3 separate regions of the Homo sapiens genome follow, and all the other regions are linked to region 2. Evidence: fine-mapped expression QTL. A gene starts in region 2. Each other region holds a variant in brackets. All regions are shown on one strand. Distances are from middle to middle.

What was found. PIP is the estimated chance that this variant, and not a neighbour inherited with it, causes the effect.
Region 1: its variant is fine-mapped to the expression of ACAD11 in whole blood (TOPMed, PIP above 0.99).
Region 3: its variant is fine-mapped to the expression of ACAD11 in whole blood (TOPMed, PIP above 0.99).

What each region holds. Positions count from the first base shown.
Region 1 is chr3:132,791,350-132,799,536 of GRCh38, reverse strand. NPHP3-AS1 (NPHP3 antisense RNA 1) reads right to left here. Exons shown (of 11, transcript NR_002811.2): 4 at 5,923-6,003. The region is part of intron 2 of LOC105374115 (a long non-coding RNA gene); the gene reads left to right. Among named protein-coding and RNA genes, the nearest start is that of NPHP3-ACAD11, 73 kb to the right of the region's middle. The variant A/C (reference allele first, on the strand shown) is at 3,723.
Region 2 is chr3:132,655,329-132,663,478 of GRCh38, reverse strand. ACAD11 (acyl-CoA dehydrogenase family member 11) reads left to right here and starts at 3,670. Exons shown (of 20, transcript NM_032169.5): 1 at 3,670-3,876. The coding sequence starts at 3,728. It overlaps UBA5 (ubiquitin like modifier activating enzyme 5), which reads right to left and starts at 3,150. Exons shown (of 12, transcript NM_024818.6): 1 at 2,781-3,150. The coding sequence starts at 2,941. The region is part of intron 26 of NPHP3-ACAD11 (NPHP3-ACAD11 readthrough (NMD candidate)); the gene reads left to right. RefSeq lists enhancers at 2,555-2,834, 3,205-3,294, 2,830-3,368.
Region 3 is chr3:132,531,721-132,539,907 of GRCh38, reverse strand. It overlaps DNAJC13 (DnaJ heat shock protein family (Hsp40) member C13), which reads right to left. Exons shown (of 56, transcript NM_015268.4): 56 at 876-1,732. The coding sequence ends at 1,626. Among named protein-coding and RNA genes, the nearest start is that of ACKR4, 61 kb to the left of the region's middle. The variant G/A (reference allele first, on the strand shown) is at 4,739.

The sequences.
Region 1 (8,187 bases), 140 kb before region 2:
TTCCAGTTTTTGCACATTCAGTATGATATTGGCTGTGGGTTTGTCATAGATAGCTCTTATTATTTTGAGATACGTCCCATCAATACCTAATTTATTGAGAGTTTTTAGCATGAAGCGTTGTTGAATTTTGTCAAAGGCCTTTTCTGCATCTATTGAGATAATCATGTGGTTTTTGTCTTTGGTTCTGTTTATATGCTGGATTACATTTATTGATTTGCATACATTGAACCAGCCTTGCATCCCAGGGATGAAGCCCACTTGATCATGGTGGATAAGCTTTTTGATGTGCTGCTGGATTCGGTTTGCCAGTATTTTATTGAGGATTTTTGCATCAATGTTCATCAAGGATATTGGTCTAAAATTCTCTTTTTTGGTTGTGTCTCTGCCCGGCTTTGGTATCAGGATGATGCTGGCCTCATAAAATGAGTTAGGGAGGATTCCCTCTTTTTCTACTGATTGGAATAGTTTCAGAAGGAATGGTACCAGTTCTTCCTTGTACCTCTGGTAGAATTCGGCTGTGAATCCATCTGGTCCTGGACTCTTTTTGGTTGGTAAGCTATTGATTATTGCCACAATTTCAGCTCCTGTTATTGGTCTATTCGGAGATTCAATTTCTTCCTGGTTTAGTCTTGGGAGAGTGTATGTGTCAAGGAATTTATCCATTTCTTCTAGATTTTGCAGTTTATTTGCATAGAGGTGTTTGTAGTATTCTCTGATGGTAGTTTGTATTTCTGTGGGATAGGTGGTGATATCCCCTTTATCATTTTTTATTGCGTCTATTTGATTCTTCTCTCTTTTTTTCTTTATTAGTCTTGCTAGTGGTCTATCAATTTTGTTGATCCTTTCAAAAAACCAGCTCCTGGATTCATTAATTTTTTCAAGAGTTTTTTTTTGTCTCTATTTCCTTCAGTTCTGCTCTGATTTTAGTTATTTCTTGCCTTCTGCTAGCTTTTGAATGTGTTTGCTCTTGCTTTTCTAGTTCTTTTAATTGTGATGTTAGGATGTCAATTTTGGATCTTTCCTGCTTTCTCTTGTGGGCATTTAGTGCTATAAATCTCCCTCTACACACTGCTTTGAATGTGTCCCAGAGATTCTGGTATGTTGTGTCTTGGTTCTCGTTGGTTTCAAAGAACATCTTTATTTCTGCCTTCATTTCGTTATGTACCCAGTAGTCATTCAGGAGCAGGTTGTTCAGTTTCCATGTAGTTGACCGGTTTGGAGTGAGTTTCTTAATCCTGAGTTCTTGTTTGATTGCACTGTGGTCTGAGAGACAGTTTGTTATAATTTCTGTTCTTTCACATTTGCTGAGGAGGGCTTTACTTCCAAGTATGTGGTCAATTTTGGAATAGGTGTGGTGTGGTGCTGAAAAAAATGTATATTCTGTTGATTTGGGGTGGAGAGTTCGGTAGATGTCTATTAGGTCCGCTTGGTGCAGAGCTGAGTTCAATTCCTGGGTATCCTTGTTAACTTTCTGTCTCATTGATCTGTCTAATGTTGACAGTGGGGTGTTAAAGTCTCCCATTATTATTGTGTGGGAGTCTCTCTTTGTAGGTCACTCAGGACTTGCTTTATGAATCTGGGTGCTCCTGTATTGGGTGCATATACATTTAGGATAGTTAGCTTTTCTTGTTGAATTGATCCCCTTACCATTATGTAATGGCCTTCTTGGTCTCTTTTGATCTTTGTTGGTTTAAAGTCTGTTTTATCAGAGACTAGTGTTGCAACCCCTGCCTTTTTTTGTTTTCCATTTCCTTGGTAGGGATGCCCTCTCTCACCACTCCTATTCAACATAGTGTTGGAAGTTCTGGCCAGGGCAATTAGGCAGGAGAAGGAAATAAAGGGTATTCGATTAGGAAAAGAGGAAGTCAAATTGTCCCTGTTTGCAGATGACATGATTGTATATCTAGAAAACCCCACTGTCTCAGCCCAAAATCTCCTTCAGCTGATAAGCAACTTCAGCAAAGTCTCAGCATACAAAATCAATGTACAAAAATCACAAGCATTCTTATACACCAATAACAGACAAACAGAGAGCCAAATCATGAGTGAACTCCCATTCACAATTGCTTCAAAGAGAATAAAATACTTAGGAATCCAACTTACAAGGGACGTGAAGGAACTCCTCAAGGAGAACTACAAACCACTGCTCACTGAAATAAAAACGGATACAAACAAATGGAAGAACATTCCATGCTCATGGGTAGGAAGAATCAATATAGTGAAAATGGCCATACTGCCCAAGGTAATTTATAGATTCAATGCCATCCCCATCAAGCTACCAATGCCTTTCTTCACAGAATTGGAAAAAACTACTTTAAAGTTCATATGGAACCAAAAAAGAGCCCACATCGCCAAGTCAATCCTAAGCCAAAAGAACAAAGCTGGAGGCATCACGCTACCTGACTTCAAACTACACTACAAGGTTACAGTAACCAAAACAGCATGGTACTGGTACCAAAACAGAGATATAGATCGCTGGAACAGAACAGAGCCCTCAGAAATAACGCCGCATATCTACAACTATCTGATCTTTGACAAACCTGACAAAAACAAGCAATGGGGAAAGGATTCCCTATTTAATAAATGGTGCTGGGAAAACTGGCTAGCCATATGTAGAAAGCTGAAACTGGATCCCTTCCTTACACCTTATACAAAAATTAATTCAAGATTGATTAAAGACTTAAATGTTAGACCTAAAACCATAAAAACCCTAGAAGAAAACCTCGGCAATACCATTCAGGACATAGGCATGGGCAAGGACTTCATGTCTAAAACACCAAAAGCAATGGCAACAAAAGCCAAAATTGACAAATGGGATCTAATTAAACTAAAGAGCTTCTACACAGCAAAAGAAACTACCATCAGAGTGAACAGGCAACCTACAAAATGGGAGAAAATTTTCACAATCTACTCATCTGACAAAGGGCTAATATCCAGAATCTACAATGAACTCAAACAAATTTACAAGAAAAAAACAAACGACCCCATCAAAAAGTGGGCAAAGGATATGAACAGACACTTCTCAAAAGAAGACATTTATGCAGCCAAAAGACACATGAAAAAATGCTCATCATCACTGGACATCAGAGAAATGCAAATCAAAACCACAATGAGATACCATCTCACACCAGTTAGAATGGCGATCATTAAAAAGTCAGGAAACAACAGGTGCTGGAGAGGATGTGGAGAAACAGGAACACTTTTACACTGTTGGTGGGACTGTAAACTAGTTCAACCATTGTGGAAGTTAGGGTGGCGATTCCTCAGGGATCTAGAACTAGAAATACCATTTGACCCAGCCATCCCGTTACTGGGTATATACCCAAAGGACTATAAATCATGCTGCTATAAAGACACATGCACACGTATGTTTATTGCGCCACTATTCACAATAGCAAAGACTTGGAACCAACACAAATGTCCAACAAAGATAGACTGGATTAAGAAAATGTGGCACATATACACCATGGAATACTATGCAGCCATAAAAAATGATGAGTTCATGTCCTTTGTAGGGACACGGATGAAATTGGAAATCATCATTCTCAGCAAACTATCGCAAGGACAAAAAACCAAACACCACATGTTCTCACTCATAGATGGGAATTGAACAATGAGAACACATGGACACAGGAAGGGGAACATCACACTCTGGGGACTGTTGTGGGGTGGGGGGAGGGGGGAGGGATAGCATTAGGAGATATACCTAATGCTAAATGACG[A/C]GTTAATGGGTGCAGCACACCAACATGGCACATATATACATATGTAACTAACCTGCACATTGTGCACGTGTACCCTAAAACTTAAAGTATAATAATAAAAAAAGAAAAAAGAATTTTGTTCCCATGGAGCTTTAAGCAAATGGAGATAACGAATAAGAGAGCAAAGAAGTTAATGAACAAGATCATTAAAAATAGGTAAAAAAAAAACTGGGTGAAGTAAGGCAGAATGTAGGGGAAGAGCAGTCAGGAAGACCTGCTTGAGGAGATGTCCTCTGGCTGGAGATCCTTTTTTTTTTTTTTTTTTTTTTTGAGATGGAGTCTCACTCTGCTGCCCAGGCTGGAGTGCAGTGGTAAGATCTTGGCTCACCGCAACCTCTGCCTCCTGGGTTCAAGCAATTCTCCTGCCTCAGCCTCCCGAGTAGCTGGGATTACAGGCATGTGCCATCACACCTGGCTAATTTTTGTATTTTTAGTAGAGACAGGGTTTCGCCATGTTGGCCAGGCTGGTCTCGAACCCCTTACCTCAGGTGATCTGCCTGCCTCAGCCTCCCAAAGTGCTAGGATTACAGGCATGAGCCACCATGCCCGGTGGAGATCTTAATGTCCAGACAGGGCTGGACATGCTGAGATGTGAGGGCAGAGTGGTCCTGACAGGAGACTCATAAGGTGAAGCCCATGAGGCCTTTGCTGGGTTGAAGGAACAAACCCCGGAAAGGAGCATCCACTGTCATTTTTAAGCAAGGGGATGGCATGATCTGATTCATAGTTTAGGGAAAGGAATCAGAAAGAAGGAGACTATGAAGCCAAAAACAACTGAGGGAGAGGATGGATGATGTGTCTATAAGAAAACAAAATTAGTAAAGGCAGGAGAAGGGCATTGGGCACACTGGAAAAAACAATCCTTGTAGCTGCTCCAGACTAGAGGTATACTGAGAATTGACAGCACCAGGACTAGCTCACATGGAGGCAGAGGAATTTTCCTAAAGCGGCAGGGAGATAGGGGTGAATAGAAAGAAGACCTGAAAGTGGAGAAATGTAGCCTATTCAAGGCAAGGCTAACACAGAATTTACCTTTAAACATATTCATTAGGATTAGAATTTATCTCAGGTTAAGAAAAGCTCCCTGGGAATTGAGCTGACTTGATACTTTAAGTAGAAGAGGTAATTTGGGTGGTTCGATATTTCCTCTGCAGAAATGCTCCAGAGTGATGACTCCTTTGCAATTCCATATCATTGGGGCTTTGTATTGTGTTCCATTCATCTGTGTATCTGTCCTTTTACCAATAACAATGTTTTGATTTGTAAAGACTTTATAAATGCTTAGTTTAAGAATAAGTCTTAAAATCAGACAGTGTGAGTCCTCCAACTTTCTTCTTTTTCAAAATTATGTTCCCTACTCCGCAATTCTGTCTTTTAAAATCTTGTTTTAATCTTGGTGAGAATTTTTTCATATTTACTACATATAGCTGGTATATTTATTTTAAGTGGGAAATGGAAAATTTTTAAAAGAAGAGCTGTTAGAAATACTTGGGCTGCAAGTAACAGAATCCTTCATTTCAATGCCTTAAACAAAGAGGGCTTTATGTTTCCTTGCATAAGAGAAATCTGAAGTCAGGTGTCTGCTAGCATTGGTTCAGTGCTTCAATAATGTCAGGGTCCACTTCTCTGTGGGTCTTTTGGCCTCTCTCTCATAGTCACAAAATGGCAGTGATATGGATTGGAAATTTGTTCCCTCCAAGTCTCCTGTTGAATATGACCTCCAATGTTGGAGTTGGGACATGGTGGGAGGTGTTTTGGTTATGGGGGCAGATTCCTGATGAATGTCTTCATGCCCTCCTTATGGTAATGAGTGAGTTCTCCCTCTGAGTTCACATGAGATCTGGTTGTTTAACAGAGTGTGGTGCCTTCACCCACCCCTTGCTCCCCCTCTTGCCATGTAACACTGCCTGCTCTTCCTTCACCTTCCACCATGATTGTAAACTTCCTGAAGCCCTGACCCAGAGCAGGTACTGATGCTGGCACCACACTTCTTGTACATCCTGCAGAACCATGAGCCAAAATAAAACTTTTTTCTCCATAGAGTACACAGTCTCGGGTATTCCTCTATAGCAATGCAAATGGATGAATTCAGGCAGCTACGGCTGCTATCTTATCAATTTAAGGTAGGAAAAAAAGGAAAAATAGGGGAGGGGTAACTTACGTCTCCTTGTCCAAAATTGTGTCAGATGACCTCCTTTGGCTACAGGAGAGGCTAGGAAAGTGAGTACTTTTGTTTTTCAGCCTACAAAATGACAGAGGTTAGAAAGAAAAGGGTTTCATATGAGAGGTGAGAGTGCCAACCTGCAGCATCTGCCACAAAAATTGATGAGAAGTTATCCCCCCAAAGAAGCTTTTCATTAAATTCTTCCTCCACCCTAAAAAATCACTTCTTCCACCAGTGATAATGAATCCATCTTAAGCCACATTGCTTTCCTTCTCCACGTTGGATGGGAACCATCTCAGTGACTCCTGACTCTGCCTCTCCCAGTCATGAGAGTTAATTTTCCCCCAGCATTCTGCAGCACGTACGCAGTCTGTGAGAGTCAGAGAGACCAGCTAGAAAAATAAACCTAGTCTATTGCTAAAGAACAAGAGTGACATTATGATCAGGATACAGTCTAGCTCTCTTTAATAAATTTTCAAGGAAAGACTATTAGAATTCAATTCATGTCCATGAATTGCCCATTTCAGTCCTTGCATAGAAGAAACTGGGTATTTCTTCTTGTCTCTCATTCAATAAACATTTACAGGACTCCTATGTGCCAGGAGCTAAGGGTTTTTATTCTTTTTTCCTTTGTTATCGTTCCTTATCCTATTTTCTTGGATTATTTTTCTTTCCAAGTGTATGTGTAATATGTGTGTGTGTGAAGTTACAGACAAAATGTCAAGCCTGCAGAGTCAGGGCCCCATAACTATAGCTCCCTCCAGTCTCCTTCCAGGGCCATTAAGAGCACTGCTCACACCCGTTTGAGAAGGAAGGTCTGAGAAGGTACGAAGAATCAGGATGCAAGTGGTATCTGTCAGTAGTGCCACTTCTTACAACATTCATGTACTTATTTATGCATTTATTTATTCATAAATATTTGAGCCCATTTGGTAGATGTTGGGGACATTGTGGTGAACATACAGATATGGTCTCTATCCTCATTGAATTTATATTTGCTGTGGGGCAATGTTTTTGAAATATCAACCAATGTTATTATATTTCTCCCTTGAGGCAATGAGCAGAGAAAAAAGACAAGACTTCTTCTGTGTTAGGGGAATAGAAGTGATATTAGGCTACACAAAAATGTTACCATGAGCAGGGCTTCACCTCACACAAATACCCCACTAAACGAAAAAAAAAAAAATAGTGTGCGTTGAATGGAAGAGATGGGGAATTACTCTAGAAAGACCAGGGAGGACAGAAGGGAGCAATCCAGACCTGAAAGGGACAATGGATGAGCATAAGATGTGTCTCTGTCAAGGACCATAGTGAGGAGAGCTGTGGAACCAGGAACCTCATGGTAGCAAAGGGTGGATTTGCCAAGACATAGGGATCACCGCTTATCACCCACACCTGGGCCTATACCAATCGTTCTTTCCCTGGGCATCCAAAATCCATGCCTGCCTCTTCTTCCTGGGCATAGAGTTAGACTATATTTCCCAGCCTCCCTTGCTATTAGATGAAACCCTATTGTGAACCAGTGAGTTCTGGCCAATGGAATGTGGATAGAAGTGATACACACTTCTTCCTGTTTTGTCTATGCTCCCTCCATGCTCCCTCTTTCCTGTTCTGCCAGGTAGAGATGACAGGCTCTAAATCCCTAGGGGACAGCAAAACCAAAAGGTAGAAAAAGCTTGTGTCCCTGAGTCCCTGCTTGGAAGAAAATGACACAAGGTAGCCACCCTGATCACACATACCTGCATTGGACTCTTACTTGAGCAGAAGTGAACTTTTATGGTGTTAAGCCACTAAAATGTTGTAGTGTGTTACAGAAATTTTAGCCTATGCTAACAAATATTCCCAGCAACCACCCAGCTCAAGTAACACTTTCCTGTCCCTAGACTTAGTTCATACCTCAACCAACTTACCTCATGAAGACAGGTACCCCATTTGTAAAATACCAGGACACAGTACGTACCCACCCCACAAAAGGAGGATGGGACTCTCACAATCTACCCTGGCATTGTGATGGCAAGGAAGGGAAAGGTCCTGCTTGTGAGGCTAAACAGAATCTGGTTAAGATTTTTACTTTGAAAGAGTGATTACACACACAAGCGTTATACAATATAGAAGGAGAGAGAAACGGTAAACAAGTAAATGTAGAGTTCATATAGAATTACAAATCATGCTAAGCTCTATAGAGCAAAATTACAAATAGTGTAAAGAGAATAACATTTGGGATACAATTTATCTTTGCGTTGGTGAGTGAAGAGTTTTCTG
Region 2 (8,150 bases):
GTATGTAAGCATTTAGTTTACATTCAGTCACAGCATTCAGCATGTAAACAATCAGTTTACCCCTTCCTTCAGGTACAAAGACCTGCCCCAATTATTCTTGGAAATCTTCTATTTTACTCTTTCTAATGAAGAAATCTCTACTCTCCTCTTCTGGTAGGGAAGGAGTGTTTGCCCAGTTACCCACAGTGGAGTAGGGGATCTGGGGCTTTTGTTTCTTCAACAGATTTTCAACTGAAAGTTTTTTTTAGCCCTACCTGAAGTTCTGCAAGTACCTGTGCCTATTCCTGAGCCTTTTGGGGGATTCTTGCAATAAACTGGGTTGCGAGCTTAAGATTAAACTTCTCTGAATCTATTAAATCAGTTACCTTCACCCATCCCTTCTCTAGTTTCCAAATTGTTACTATAATCAAGTACAGGGACCCACCCCTCCCTATCAGTTATTAATACGAACCCTTTATATTTTCAATGGGAGTTTCTTTTAAAAAATTCCTTTACTGTCACTTTAGTGAGGTTGGGTAGAAAGTGATGGCAGATCCATCACAGGAATTTGCTATCCTTACCTTGATGCTCCCTTCAATCTTTAAATAATCTGAGAAGCATGGATGGCAACCCCCTTTTACAGATGAGGGAAACGGTTTGGGTTAATCAACTGCCCAAAATCAGCTAACTGGCAAGTGGTATTCTGAGCTGGGTTTCTGAGCCAGGATTTGATACCAGGTTTTCTAATCTCAAAGCCTCTCCAATTTTTCCACATGCTTATAACTATATTCCATAACACATAATTTTACGGTTACTTGTGTTTTTTAATATCCCACCTCCATGTAGTCTCTCAAACTGAAGCAAAAGTCAGGTGCTTTATATTTCTTTTGTATCTCTTGAAGCAATTAAAATGGTGTTGAACACATACATATCCCTTTCCTATAACCTTTTGTACTTTATCATAATTCAATAACCTGTACTTTATCAATAATAACACTGTACTTTATCATAATTCTTATCACCTGTACTGCAATGGCATGTTTACTTTTCTATTTATCTCACACTCATCTGGTAAGCTCTAGAGGGAAAAGACCATGTCTACTTTATATTCACAGTGTCTGCACACAATAAGTACTCAATACAAAGTAAATAATATTGTCAAGGAGGACTGGAGACAAAAATGTACTCAGTAAATATTTGCTGTATGAACAATTCAAAAAATTAAAGCTGAACTTTATTAAAATTCCATATATCAGTGAACAGCTTTGGGTATCAAACTGCCATCTCCTGTATAGCAATTTTAATAAAGTCAATGGTGCAAATCAGATAGAAAATACTACATATTTAGACTTGAGTTCTGAAAGTTTTGTTATAATTACAATGTCAAGGGATCATCTCATATTAAATAATGTCTGAAAGACAACTTAAATTCATGACCCATATTCCTCTGCTTTTCATTCTGGAGGGAAAATTTCAAAGTCTTCATTTGTAAAATTTTAAAATGTTTTAAAAATGTCAAATAGTTTCCACTTATTCTGATTAGAGATGTCAGTTCATGCTTATTTAATCTCTAAAAATTCTGGACCATTAACCGTTCATATTTGGCAACACAGTTAAAACAGTGCACCCTAAGACTTCTACTGCGGCTTTATATATCACAAACTAAAACCTTTTTTAAAAATCAAAACTGTTATGCTCTTTAAAGGAAAAAAGCAACAATAAAATCTTCCTTATCTACTTTAACACTATACAATTTTTAGCTACACGACTTAATTGTTTTTACTGGGGAGACGGTTCATGAGAATTTTACATTAAGACAAATCTAATGCAAGACAGGCCTTATTATTTACTACCAAGGCATGAACCTGAGGTGGCTCTCTAAGCCTCAATTTTCTCACTTATATAATGGGGGTAAAATAGTAGCAATCTCATAGGGTTTTGGTGGGAGGAGACAATGCATGTAAAGTGCTTACACAGTGAAAGCTCAATAACTGCTTGCTACTAAATGCACCTAGCAATAAAATCTTGTATAAGGCTTGCCATGTACAAGCGCTACTCTAAGACCTTTATACATACTGATTTTTTCAATCCCCACAACTATGACAGAGATAGATATTACTATTATCTTCATTGTACAGGTGAGAAGCTGAAGCGGAAAGTTTCACAACTTGCCAAAGGTTAGGCAGTTACGAAGAGAGTAGTTAGATTTGAATTGCAATCAGTCTGGCGGTAGAGTCCTTACCCTTAACCATTGCACTATATTCCATCTGCTGAATTGATAAGCTTTGTTAGGAAAGAAGAAAAGAGAGGCCTGGGCAGTCTTGGTAATGTCGAATGGTTTGAGATGTTAAGGAGCACCCGAATATCTCAGAATAGAGCTAACCCCGCTCTCCCCCGCCCCGACCCCATTTAAGATGCATTGATAAGCCTTTAATGAAACTCAAAGTTTACCTTAGCAGGTTTAATATTTGATCTCATCTTCTGAAAGTTCTTACTATCAGTCTTATACACAGCGAGGCGGACTAATTAAGAGGCAAGGGTGATAGGAAACTGGACACACGTCCTCAGCAGGCACAGGAGCAGCACCATATGGCTGACTCACTGGAGGTTTTTAAAAAAGAGAAAGAATATCTTCCGATCAGTACTAAGATGTGGCCTTGCCCATTTGGGAACAGGATTCGCAGACCAAGAAAAGGGTGGCGGGCGTCCCCATGAGCGGGACGTGGGAAGCGCCTCACTTCTGACCTCACGGAGCCTGACCTCGTCCCCCGCGCCTGCCTCCGACCGGCGACGCAGGTTACCTGTAGGGATTCGAATCCACCACCTCTGAGCTCATCTTCTCGATGCGGACCCGGCCGCCCCCTCCGTCGCCGCTCCTCGGGACCTGCAGACTCCTCTCCTGGGCAAGTTCCCGCTCCAGCTCCTGGACCCGCTGCTGCAGGCGCTCCACAGACTCCGCCATGGCTGGGACTCCGGCCGCCAACGCTCCCAGCCCGGGCCTTCGCCGCCGCCTTCGCCCCACGTTGCTCGGCTGGGCCCGCGAGGGGTACGTGGGGAGGCACCTCGCCGCTGCCTTCCTAGCCCAGAGCCCTGGGGACGTGCACCCAGCGCCTCACAGACAGACACGTCTCCGAGACTCCCACAGGCCTTCCTCGGAGCCGCTTCCGGTGCGTCGCAGACATCGCTCCCCCTCATCAAAAACCTGGCTCTTTCGGCTTCCTTCCTCGCTGGGCCGGCTAAACCCGGCCGCAGCAGCACCGGGGTGATAAGTGTCCAGGGCAGGAGGCCAGCGATGTTGCCTTGCTAACCGGGTATCTAAGAGAAACAGGGTCTTTTTATTCTTAGGCTCGACAGTCTGACGGCCCTTTTTCTGAACGGGACCCTGCAGGTCTTCCGCCTGCTGTTGCATTAAATTTGGGGGTGGAAGAGGCTTCTGCGTTGTTCCTTACCCGCAACGATGACCATGGCTTTGCCTTCTTTAAAATTGAGGCCTCCAACTCTGACGCTGACTGGAGAATTGAAACCCGAACACACATTGGGCTCTTTTGGCACTTGACTAGAGCTAAAACCTCGGGATTCAGCGGGCAAGCGTTGCTCAGCAACGGCGCGTAGGCTGTGTGCGGTTGGCTGGAGCCAGACCCCACCCCGGCCTCGGCCCATGCTCTAGAGGGGACGTTGCCCCAATCCTGAAGGACTTCGGCACTCGAGACCTGTGGATGCCGCGTTGCTGTGGCCTGCGGGGGTGATCATGAAGCCAGGTGCTACTGGCGAGTCCGATTTGGCCGAAGTGCTGCCCCAGCACAAGTTCGACAGCAAGTCCCTGGAGGCCTACCTAAACCAGCACTTGTCTGGCTTTGGGGCCGAACGTGAGGCTACGCTGACCATTGCCCAGTACAGGTATGGATGTCAGCCTTTGCCTCCAGCGGAAAAAAATTTGTACATTGAGTTTTCCTTCCTTTGGCCCTGGGTGGTTTCCTAAGTTTCTCCCACCCTGATTGCTTTTCCTGCAGTCAGTGGACGCACCCTACAGGCATGAGCTGCTATTGCCGGCCCTCCGAATTCGATGCTGGGGGCTTCCCAATTGGAGGGCGGTAATGGAAGCGCAATAACGTTCACCATTCTACTATCCAAAGGAATCTTTGTTAAAGGATGGATTTATGTCCCTTGAGGATTCACCAAGGCAATTAAGGCTACAAATTCTGAGAAATAGATGCCTTCTTTTGTGATACAGCCATTAGATCTTTTTCTGAGAAGCTGGTGTAATTCCGTTTGATTGGCCGTATTCCGGGAGGCTGAGTTAATGACACCAGATGGAGGATCCGAATTCGAGTACTAGCTTTTCCACTTAGGAGGTCACAGCACCACTTTGGGCCTCAGGTTTTTTGAAGTGAGGTAATGGAACTGAGTGAGAGGATCCTGAGAGTAGCGTTCCCCACCGGGAATCTGGCTTTAGTCTGATGTTTTACAATAGATAATACATTCTTAAAACTTTATTCTAAAAATAACATTGTTACTAATACAGGGCTACAGAAAGAGTCCTATCATTCAGAAAACTGGATCTGTCACTTGCTGTCTGGGAGTTTAAATATGTTACATAAACACTCTGAGAACTAGTTTCCTAAGTTGTAATACCTATTTTGATTAGTCTTATTAATGAAATGAAATACCGTAATATAGGTGAAAGGGCGTAAAAATTGCAACAACATAGTGTGCTAGTGGTATTTTATCACTAGCATTTATATTCTTTGACTACTGATTTTGGTGAAAATGAAAATAATAATAAATGAGATGGATCAGGGAACATTTTAGGGTGTAGAATTTAAAGGTCCCATGTCCCAATAGATATTGGAAGATGAAGGGAAAGGTGGAATAAAGAATAGCTGAGATTTCTAGGCTAGAAGCCTTGTGTTGTAACAAACTGAAACAGATCAAAGTTCAAATTTCAACTATTTCAATTGCTGTGGAATTTGGACAAGTTACCCTTTGAACATCTAGTCCTGCTTTGGCAAAAAGGAGATAGTAACGTTCATATTGTAGGAGTGTTGAAGAGGTACATAACTGAAAGATACTTAATTCTGAACCAAGCTGAATGTTAAACCATAACCGTGTTCAAAAAATGAAATTAGTTGTAAATTAGTTGTGGTATAAAAATTGCTTCCAGAAATGTTGTATAAGCTTGGTTTAATAAATATATATGGAACTCTGGATCCCACAGAGAACACACATTCATTTCTAGGACACATGAAAAAGTTTATAAAAATTGAAAACACATAGGCCATGAAGGAAGTCTCAGAAACTCAAAAGAATCAATCTTTATATTTTGAAAATGTGTGTTTTGGCCAGGTGCAGTGACTCACACTTGTAATCCCAGCACTTTGGGAGGCCGAGGCACGTGGATCACTTGAGGTCAGGAGTTCAAGACCAGCCTGGCCAACATGGTGAAACCCCCATCTCTACTAAAGATACAAAAATTAGCCGGGCGTGGTGGCACGTGCCTGTAGTCCCAGCTACTTGGGATGCTGAGGCAGGAGAATCGCTTGAACCAGGAGAGGGAGGTTGCAGTGAGCCAAGATTGCACCACCATGCTCCAGCCTAGGTGACAGAGTGAGACTCAAAAAAAAAAAAAAAAAAAAGGAATATGTGTTTTTTTAATACCAAAAGTTTAACAGAAGATAGCTAACAAATACATGTTTATAAATTAAGTGATTCATGGATTAAAGAGCCAATAATCTACATAGACAGTAAAAGACTATCAAAGTTCAGTGTACAGAAATCAACTGCATTTCTCTACTTTAGCAACAGTTAAAATGTAATTTTCAAAAACTTACAGGAGCATCAAAAATATAAATTACCTAAGTAAAAGATGTGCAATACCTTTGTAGAGAAATGATAAAACTTTTATTAGGACCTTAAAAAGAATTTTAAAAATTGAGAGATGCCATGTTGTTGAATAGGAATATTCAATATTGCAAACTTTTTTCTTCCAGTTGATCTATTGATTCAAAGCAATGACAATCAAAATCCTAATTTTTTTCTCTAATTTGAAAAAGTGCTCCTAAATTTTATGTGTAAGAGCGAAGGGCTAAGGATAGCAGAAACATTTTTAAAGAACCACAAGGTGGGAAATTTGAGTTAAGATGGTATGATATTAGCACAGAGATAGACAGACCAATAAAATAGAACAGAGAGTTCACAGAAAGACCCACATATTTATAGAAGTTTGATAAGTGACAATGTTGGCACTGAGAGTCAGTGGGGGGAAAAGAAGAACTTTTCAAGAAGTTATACTGGAATAATTGTTATCTGTATGAAGAAATAGAAATTAGACTCTTTATCTCACACAGTTCCAGGTAGATAAAAGAACTGAATGTTAAACTATAAATGTTTGGAAGATGTGTAAGTTATATTTTTGACTTTAGAGAAGAAAATATTTTAAAGACAACAGCAGAAACCACAAAGGAAATGACTGATAAATTTTCATTAAAAGACTTAAAGTGAAAAGACAGAAGAAAATATTTTCAGTGCATATAATGGTTAAAATATTCAGAATATAACTATAATAGCTCACCAGAAAAATGGGCGAAAACTTGATGATGCTCAACTTTATTATACTGTAGTAATAAGGGAAATGCAAATTAAAAAAAAAAAAACAACACAATGAGAAACCATTTCACACCACCAAATTGACTTTTAAAAAATCTGACAATAGACTGGGTGCAGTGGCTCATGCCTGTAATCCCAGCACTTTGGGAGGCTGAAGCAGGTGGATCACCAGAGGTCGAGTTCGAGACCAGCCTGGCCAACATGGTGAAACCCCGTCTCTACTAAAAATACGAAATTAGCTGGGTGTGGTGGTGGGTACCTGTAAATCCCAGCTACTCGGGAGGCTGAGGCAGGAGAATTGCTTGAACCTGGGAGGCAGAGGCTTTAGTGAGCTGAGATCACAGCACTGCACTCCAGTCTGGGTGAGTCAGAGGCAGACTCCGTCTCAAAAAAAAAAAAAATCTGACAATATCAAGCATCAGGATATGGGGCAACAGGGACTCATATAGGGGTGTGAATTAGTATAGCTGCTATTGAAAAATAACTCAACATGATCTTGTAAAAATGAAGTTGGGAAGATACACATGACCTATGACCTAGCAGTTCTACTCATAGATACATACTCCTGAGACTTTTCTTGTACTACAGTATAAGGGGACAATCTACAAAGATGTTCATTGTACTGTTTGTAATAGCAAAAATCCAGGAAACAACACAATGTCTATAGATACAGAATGGATGAATAAATTGCAGTATATTCACATAATGGAGTAGCATACAACAGTGAAAATGATTCAGCTACAGCTGTACATAACACAGAATGAAAAACGTGAAGAAATTAACAGTATATTATATACAGAGATAAACTTCAAGGGAATGATAAATATAAAATTCAGAATGGTAGTCACTCAAGGGGAAGGACATACAGGGTTTCAAAGACAGTAATTTTCTCCGGGTAGTGAAAATGGTGTTTGTGGCATTACTATTCCTCATGCCTTACCAATTTCATAAATACTCTTTTTATCTGCAAGATTTACTTTTAAAATTTGCAAAAATTAAATCTTATTGGAAAGATAAAATATTTAGAATTAATCAATAATGAAAGTATTATATAGCTTGATACAACAAAACTTGTGATTTGCAGCTGAGTGCCTAATATGTATCTGGCACTGTATCAACCACTGAGGATGTAACAATAATCTTGCCTCCCTGGAACTTCCATTGTATTTGTAGAAGACAGACAGGAAAATCAGCTTCTGAACTTTACAATGTAGAAGTTGATATGTAACATGGAGGAAAAGAGAATAGGAAATGTTTGGGTGTGGGGCAGGAAGATTTCCTCGAGCACACGGCATTCAGCAAAGACTTGAAGGGGGATGAAAATGTGAGCCATGTAAATATCCAGGAAAAGAGTGTTCCAGACAGAGGGGACTGCTAATGCAAAGGCCCTGGAAGGGATGTGTGCCCAGTGTGTTGAGGAAACACAGCCCAAATGCCTGAAGTAGTGTAAGCAAGGGCAACAGGGACCCTGTCAGGCAATAAAGAGACTTTGGCTTTTACTTTGAATTGAGATGGAGAGAGACTTAAAACATGCTTGAGCAGAGGAGGGAAGTAATCTTTAAACAAAC
Region 3 (8,187 bases), 120 kb after region 2:
GATTAACTGGCCCACAGGTTCGTTCTGAGGATTAAATGAGATTATGCAATACTTAGCAGACAGTAAATATTCAATAAAGGTTAAGTATTGTTGGCATCTAAACATCAATGATCGTAGACTAATTTAACGGGCCTTTAACTATTGTATTCACAATACTTATATTCTTAGTATTTAAAAGAAAACATTGCTATGTTGATTTATGCTCTCCTAAATACCTAATCCCAATTTAGCTGTTATAATTTTTTAGTGAACACATTTTTATACCCAACTATTGTCTAGAAACTAAAACCCTAGTTACATATTAAAATACTTCCATTAACATATTACTCTATAATCTGTTAGAGATGATAAACTTGATGCAGAAGTTTGAATTAGTGATTTGGAATAGGAGTAAGTTTCCATTTTGGCTGTTCTTACACATCAACTGTGGAATAAACTTGGTTCTTGCTTTGAAAGGAAACTTGGAAGTGTGGGTATTTCCCCATTCTTTAAGAACTGTTTGTTTATATTCTCCATGTTTATATTTTCTTGTAGTTTGTGGTCACACTAGAAAATCTATGTGCTGAGATTTGTTACTTGAAAAATCTTCTGGCTATTTAATTTTCTCTTCTTAAAAATAGTAGAATTAATGTCACATATTATTAACAGCCTGACCCATTCCTGAATGTTGTATGAAAAATAAATGAGATGCTGTGTCTGGAAACTTAGATGTGGCTGAAATATTAAAGTTAGGAATGATTAGATTATGTTAATGCAGCCATCTATATGAAGAGTTACGAATGTAAGATAACGTCTGTTTAATACTACATCTGTCTTAGAAATAAAGATAGATATATGAGGTCTTCAAACGGAAAGATTAAACTAGAACAAATATATCTCATTAACAAAGCAGTCAATTCCCTTTATTTTTAAAATTTTATGTACACATATGAATGATCTGTATAATGTACATTCAATATAGAAAGCTTTATATATTTGATAGTGTATAGAACATTTCACAATTACACTCATCTTTTACATAACATCTTGACATCCATTTTTAAATTTTTTTGCACAAGCTCCTTTTCATTCAATTTGGTAAAGCCAGTTATACATACTAATGTGTACTGTGAGCTTTCAGAAGGTTAATGATTGAGGATGCCAGTGAAGGGTGCAGGGACAAAACCTAATAGTCTTGGATGGTGGGGGGAGGATGGCCACGCAGACTTGATGCAGGAGAGGGAAATATTCTTTCCTGGGGAAAAGTGACTTAGCCCAATTTTTGTTGACTGTAGCTCAACCCTACAGTCATGCTAGTTCAAAAAAAAAATTACAAAAACTAGGAAGAAAGTTTTGTCTTTTTGATTCACAGTTTTGTAAACAGATATAAAGGAACAAATGTGCTTACATACACCAAGAAAAAAAAAATTCTTGTGTACCCACTTATGTTGATCCACAGAGTGCTTTCTTATAATGTGATACAATTAGGATCACTGACTTTTTTTCCTAAAAATATATTTATAGAAAAAGGAATAACACTGTCATGAAACCAGGAGAAAGGCAGTAAGAGTTTGCTTCAACGTATCAGCTGGAGGAATGTGGACTTGGCACTGGCCTTTCAGCGTTTATTGTCTCTCGTGAATATTTCAAGTCTGATAGCCAAGGTCGCCTGCCTCATGGTCTACAGGAGGTGGCAGGTTAGACATGACTGATGTAGATGTACCTGCGGTAAGGTAGCCAGCAACTCCAGGTCCTGCAAGAGAGAAAGGTAAACACACACCTCTAGAAAGCAGTCAAGTGAAAACATTGACCTTTATAAAAATGTCAGAACCTGCTCAGGCACTCCATCACACAAAACTAATCATCTATTTCAATTACCTAAATTACATCTATACCTTAATAAACAGCTACATAGTACTATTTTCATGTTTGCCTACACTATAGACTAGAAATCATTTCAAAATGTATGCTGGACAGTAACACTGGTGTGGAAATATGGATAAAATTTTCTTTCTTACATTTGGGAAATTCAATCTTTCAAAAAATTCCGAGCACTGAAAAGAACTATGTCGAATGGAAAAAATGGAAACAGACAGACAAAAGAAACTCTACACTCAGCTCATCCAAAAGTCATATGTGACAAAATTCAACATAAACACTTCTGTCAACACTCAAACTAACCTATTTTCATTTGGTGCAAAGAAATGCTATTATAACAAGTAACACCAAACGAACAAGGGTTGCTAAACCAAGGACTCTGAAAAAGAAAAGGCTCTGGACATCCATCTGTCATAGGTTAAAACAAGAATGCTATGTGAAAGGGTACTGATATTTTAGTCTTATATTTCTCCCTTGATTCTAACAGTTTCTATTGCATGAAAATGCCATATATGCCAGCATTTATCGAGATGTGTCCTATGGGCATATTAATGGCTTTAGCCCTCTAGAGTTTATTTTAAACATTGCATAAACATTTAATTACATCTCAGAAGCACTGCACAAACTAACAAGTACTTGCAAGGGACACTGTAGCATAATACTGCATACTGAGCAATAGTTTTAGCTGAAATTGTAGGAAACAAGGCAAACAACTAAGGAACATTGAGGGTTAGGACTAGAAAGGCAGTGGGAGCGGCATGCATTTAGCAAAACATTTCTCTACCTGCTTCAGAGAGCTACACAGAAGTTAGCAAGCTGCCTGGCAGAGCGGATCTAAAGCCCGCTCCTGAGGTGAAGGGGGCTGCTGCCAGTTAGAAGGGAAGGAGAGACACCTGAGGGGAAAAAAGAAATATAAGCAGCAAGGGAAGTTGTGAGGAAGTGCAAACAGCAGAGTAGTTTGATGAAGGTAGAAACAGGGATTGGTGGAGGACAAAAAGGCCACCATTCAGATTCATCTTGTTTTTGACCTTAAAAGTATTGGTACTATGGATGTGAAATGGCTTGTATAGATACATAGGCAGAGATGACTCAGCCTGTGTGAGCTGTAACTGAAGCCAACCAGAGTGCCCAGGTACTTGGAACGCTGTACTTATAAAAACCTTGTACTTGTAGAACTTACAAAAAATATTTCTCCTTTTTAAGGTACTGTGGGAGCCTGCATCTATCAACTCCTGCCTTGAGCCAATCAGGATGCCAGGCCTTTCACAGTCTGCTCAGGAAAAAGGCCACCAGGTCAACAAACCCTTCTGACAACGCAGTTCAGAGCTACAGCAGCACCCTGTGATCATTTCCCACCACCCTCATATTCTCTGAACTTTAGGCTGCAGCATGATTACTGCAAAACCATCCAGTAGGTGTCATCAAAGATGTAACCCTTAACAGTAAGACCTCAAACACTCCAGACTGTGTAGTTTCTGAGCAATTCTGATTGTGGGCTCAACTTGGTTCCCATCAAAATAGTAGGTTACAAGACCAAACCATGAATGCTGCATCTAGAAAGTGGATTAATGACGCAGTTCTCAAACTGTGTGCTGAGGCACCCTGGGGCATTGCTGGATATTTATTTATTCCCTTTGCCCCTCTGTGTGTGTGTGTATTTAACAGATGGGGGTCTCACTATGTTGCCTTGAACTCCTGGGCTCAAGCAACTCCCCTATCCAGGCCTTGAACTCCTAGGCTCAAGTGATCTTCCCACCCCAGCCTACTGAGTAGCGGATTCGGCCTGTCCATGTGGACTACAGTTGCCTGCCACATCATCCAGCTAACTGCTGGGTATTTTAAATTTGAAACACAGCGCCATCTGCTGACCACCATACAAACAACTACTTTCAAGTTGTCTTGCAATTACTTCATAAACTAAATTATTAGGTATTTCTTTTGGCTTGGGGACGGATGAAAAAATTACTGAGCTATTAAGGGCACTGTGAACTGAGAAAATGTGGGAACCTCTGAGCTAAAATCTAAATGGTGAAATGATGGGCTTAGAAGGAAGAAACCAAATTTTAGTACCATCATTTGCCTCTTTAGGAAAGGCAAATCAAAATCAATTCCCGGATAGTTCTACAAATGAAATCCGAGATGCTCTCCCCAGGACCCTGGCCTCTCCTTGAGGATGTGTCTGGTTTCTTGGGGCTAAAAGGTGCTGCCTGGTCATTTGCACAGAATAGGGCAGTTGTGTTCTTCAGAGAAAGATGGGAAGAGCAGGGGCTGCCAGGAATGGGCATGTGGCAAGATTGCACAAGGCTGCTGGACTTCAGAGAAATGAGAAAAGATGGAAAATTTACAGAGAATCCCACAAAACTGAATTGGCTACCACGATGAAATGTATATGTGAAAAGTTCATCTCCAATTCTGGCTCCTAGAAGCATCTTCACCCTGGCCTCTGTTCCTTTTCCTGTTGTTCCTTCTTTTGCTACTGATTTTCTAGGTTAGGTAATTTGAGGATTTTCACTGCTGAAATTATTTTTTATGAGGCTCTGAGACCATCAGCACCAAGCTGTTCTAGAACCTAATAAATGGCTAAGTGATCAAGGGCCCTGGATAATGAGTAACCACAATTTATCTGCATCACAGGAAAAATTCCACTGAGGCACCTTTAAATAAGCATTTATCATAAAACAAAATATGCCAGGCTAGAGAACCTATGGAAATAGGCAGTCTCATTTAAATTTATCAAGATTGAGTAATCCTACCTAGGACTTTAAAATTTTTACCCCAAATCTTGGGCATGTGACTGAATGACATTTACTCAGCAGCCAGAGAGAAGAAAACGTAGTTTTGGTCATTTTTATCTTACTTTGAAGTAGTAATTAACTCCTTT[G/A]TCTTTCCCCATGTCCTAAACAAAATCCACCTAACCTGCCAAACTCACCTAAAGATATCAGTTAGAAGAAAGGGTTGGTGATGTGTGTTGTCACAGCAACCTTGATTTCAATGATTACAGAGGGGCTGGGTACAATCTGTATCTTCTGAAGTTTGGGAGTAGCACGGGGCACATTTTAACTAAATGAAATTCCAATTCAACACAACACTATAAATTCCTGGAGTTCCACATCATGGGATTTTATCATTATTAGAACTACATGCCCCTTTTATCAAACACATGATACACAATACATCAATGAAAAGCTCAAACACAAAAAACATTTGGCAACTCAAGCAATGAGCACACATCAATCCAACTGGCAGTAAATTTACCTAATTTATCTCTTAATTTGCCTACATCATCTGTAGTTAGAGGATGTAGGGCTGACATCTTATATACTACAATTTCAGGCAGACAGCAAGAGTTAGAAGCTTTAATTCTTGAAATAGTTCTTTCATTTTTAATGTAACTTAATTTTTTTTGAGACAAGGTCTTGCTCTATTGCCCAGGCTGGAGTGTGGTGGTGAGAGCTCAGCTCACCTGTGACCTCCACCTCCTAGGCTCAAGAGAGCCTCCCGAGTAGGTGGGACTACAGGCATGCACCAACATGCCTGGCTAAATTTTTGTATTTTTTTATAGAGACGGGGTCTTGCCGTGTTGCCCACGCTGGTCTGGAACTCCTGGACTCAAGCAGTCCGCCCACCTTGGCCTCCAAAATTGCTGGGATTACAGACATGAGCCATTGCACCTGGCAAGTTGGTCCTTTCAAATAGGACAGACTAGAGCTGATGAAAAAATTTCCAGCAACTGACATCGCTAAAAAAGAGCATCCCAGATTGATAACATGCTCAGAATTTCACAATTCTGGGGTCAACAATGCTTACAGCTTATCCAGACTGTTCTACATGGACACGTCTGCAGGCTTCAGTAATGGCCTTCTGGAAGACTCATTATCTCCATGCCCCTTCCTGGTTGGGTTTTATACCATCTCCCCATTTGGCCAGACCTGTACAGAACTTGCTGTCCCTTAAGCCGGCTCAGGGATGGGAAGAAATTTGTATACCCCAACTTTTCTTTTTCCCTAACCTTCTTCTAACCCCTTCACAGCCACTTTTCATATCTCATTCAGAAGCCACCGCATGGATCCAAGTAAAAGGAAAGGCACAGACAAGAAGCTTTTTACTGCCTATACCTTTTCCCTATAGTTACTAAAGCATGTGGATGGGGGTGAGGACCAAATGAAGTCCAGGTTTCTGAAGATAAACCCCTATTTCTTCTGGATTCTAACCACAGACCTTTTGGTTCACACTCTGTAAGTCAAGGACATATGTTTTTTATTTCATCAAGTTAAGTCAAAGAATGATAGATAAGACTGAACAGAAGAATTAGAAGAGGCTTTCCTGTAGAGAAGCTTATAATATACACATTACTATTCTTCAGGGCCAATTTACTCTTAGTTAAGAAAAATAAGGCTGACCAGGTGCAGTGGCTCACACCTGTAATCCCAGGACTTTGGGAGTACCAGGCGGGTGGATCATTTGAGGCGGGTGGATCATTTGAGGTCAGGAGTCCGAGACCAGCCTGGCCAACACAGCAAAACCCCGTCTCTACTAAAAATACAAAAATTAGCTGGGAATGGTGGTGCACACCTGTAATCTCAGCTACTTGTGAGGCTAAGGCAGGAGAATCGTTTGAACCCGGGAGGCAAAGGTTGCGGTGAGCTGAGCTCATGCTGTAGTACTCCAGCCTGGGCAACAGACCAAGACTCTGTCTCAAAAAAAAAAAAAAAAAAAAGAGGGCGGGCATGCTGGCTCACGCCTGTAATCCCAATGCTTTGGGAAGCCGAAGTGGGCAGATCACCTGAAGTCAGGAGTTTGAGACCAGCCTCTACTAAAAATACAAAAATTAGCTGGGCATGGTGGTACATGCCTATCATCCCAAGTACTTGGGAAGCTGAGGCAGGAGAATGGCTTGAACCTGGGAGGCAGAGGTTGCAGTGAGCCAAGATTGCACCATTGCACTCCAGCCTGGGTGACAGAGCCAGACTCCGTCGCAAAAAAAAAAAAAAAAGCCAGGTGTGGTGTCTCACGCCTGTAATCCCAGCACTTTGGGAGGCCGAGGTGGGTGGATCACCTGAGGTCAGGAGTTTGAGACCAGCATAGCTAACATGGCAAAATTCCGTCTCTACTAAAATAATAATAATAATAATAATAATTACAAAAATTAGCTGGGTGTGGTGGTGCAAGCCTATAATGCCAGCTACTTGGGAAGCTGAGGCAGGAGAATCACTTGAATCCAGGGAGCAGAGGTTGCAGTGAGCTGAGGTCGCACCACTGCACTCCAGCCTGGGTGAGAGAGCAAGACTGTCTCAAAAAAATAAATAATAAAATAAAAATAAGGCAGATTTTTTTTTCAATCATACCATCCTTATACAAAAAGTAATGAATGTAATGCCATGAAAACGTGGTATGTGAACTTTTGGACATAGGCTAAAGAGGTAAAGTTTTTATACTGCCTATAAGAACAAACTCCTACTTAGAAGCTATAATTTTAACACCAAATCTGAAGAGAGATATGGGACAGACTGAGAACACAGTCTAGGTATTTTTCTCCATAGATATGAGGGACAGGGGATGGAAAAGTTAAAATAAAAACCTATGACACTGTTCTGAACAGGACATGACCTGCAGCCAAAGCACTGCATGTTTATAAATTTTAGGACTCTGCTCCAACTTTAGGAGTGTCAATATTAAAGTGGTTATGGTGAAGAAAAAAAAGTGTCACACCAAGTTTAAAATTAAAACCAGGTAAAATTTCCTCCAAAGCCTCTAATTTTGAATATTCAAGATAAAGTCTTCATGATCTTATAAACTTCTATACTAGCAATCAAGATTAAAACAATTACAATGGCTTAGAAACCCTGGGTGATAATTTTTTCTCTTAGTTTATCATCTTTGGTTAGGAGAGAATGCAGGGCTGACATCTTTTTATATACTACAATTTCAGGCAGACAGCAAGAACCGCCTCATATTCCTAAGGTTAATTTCAAATTAAGAACTTTTATAGCAGACTAGATATTGCCTCTTTAGCATTCAGCAAGAGTCTGACTTATGTTGAAGCCTATATGAAAATGACTATTCTAAAATTATGCAATTAGTGTGTCAAATGTTCTGAGTTTTAAACATAGTATCTTTTGAAACCAAAGCAGTAAAACATCCTTTCATTCATGATACCTATGTATTCCACCCCCATAAAACGACACACCCTAAATATTTAGCAAAACCATAAACAAATCACTGGAAACTTAGGAGAATATCTTTTTTTTTTTTTTGAGGCAGAGTCTTGCTCTGTCGCCCAGGCTGGAGTGCAGTGGCGCAATCTTGGCTCACTGCATGCTCTGCCTCCCG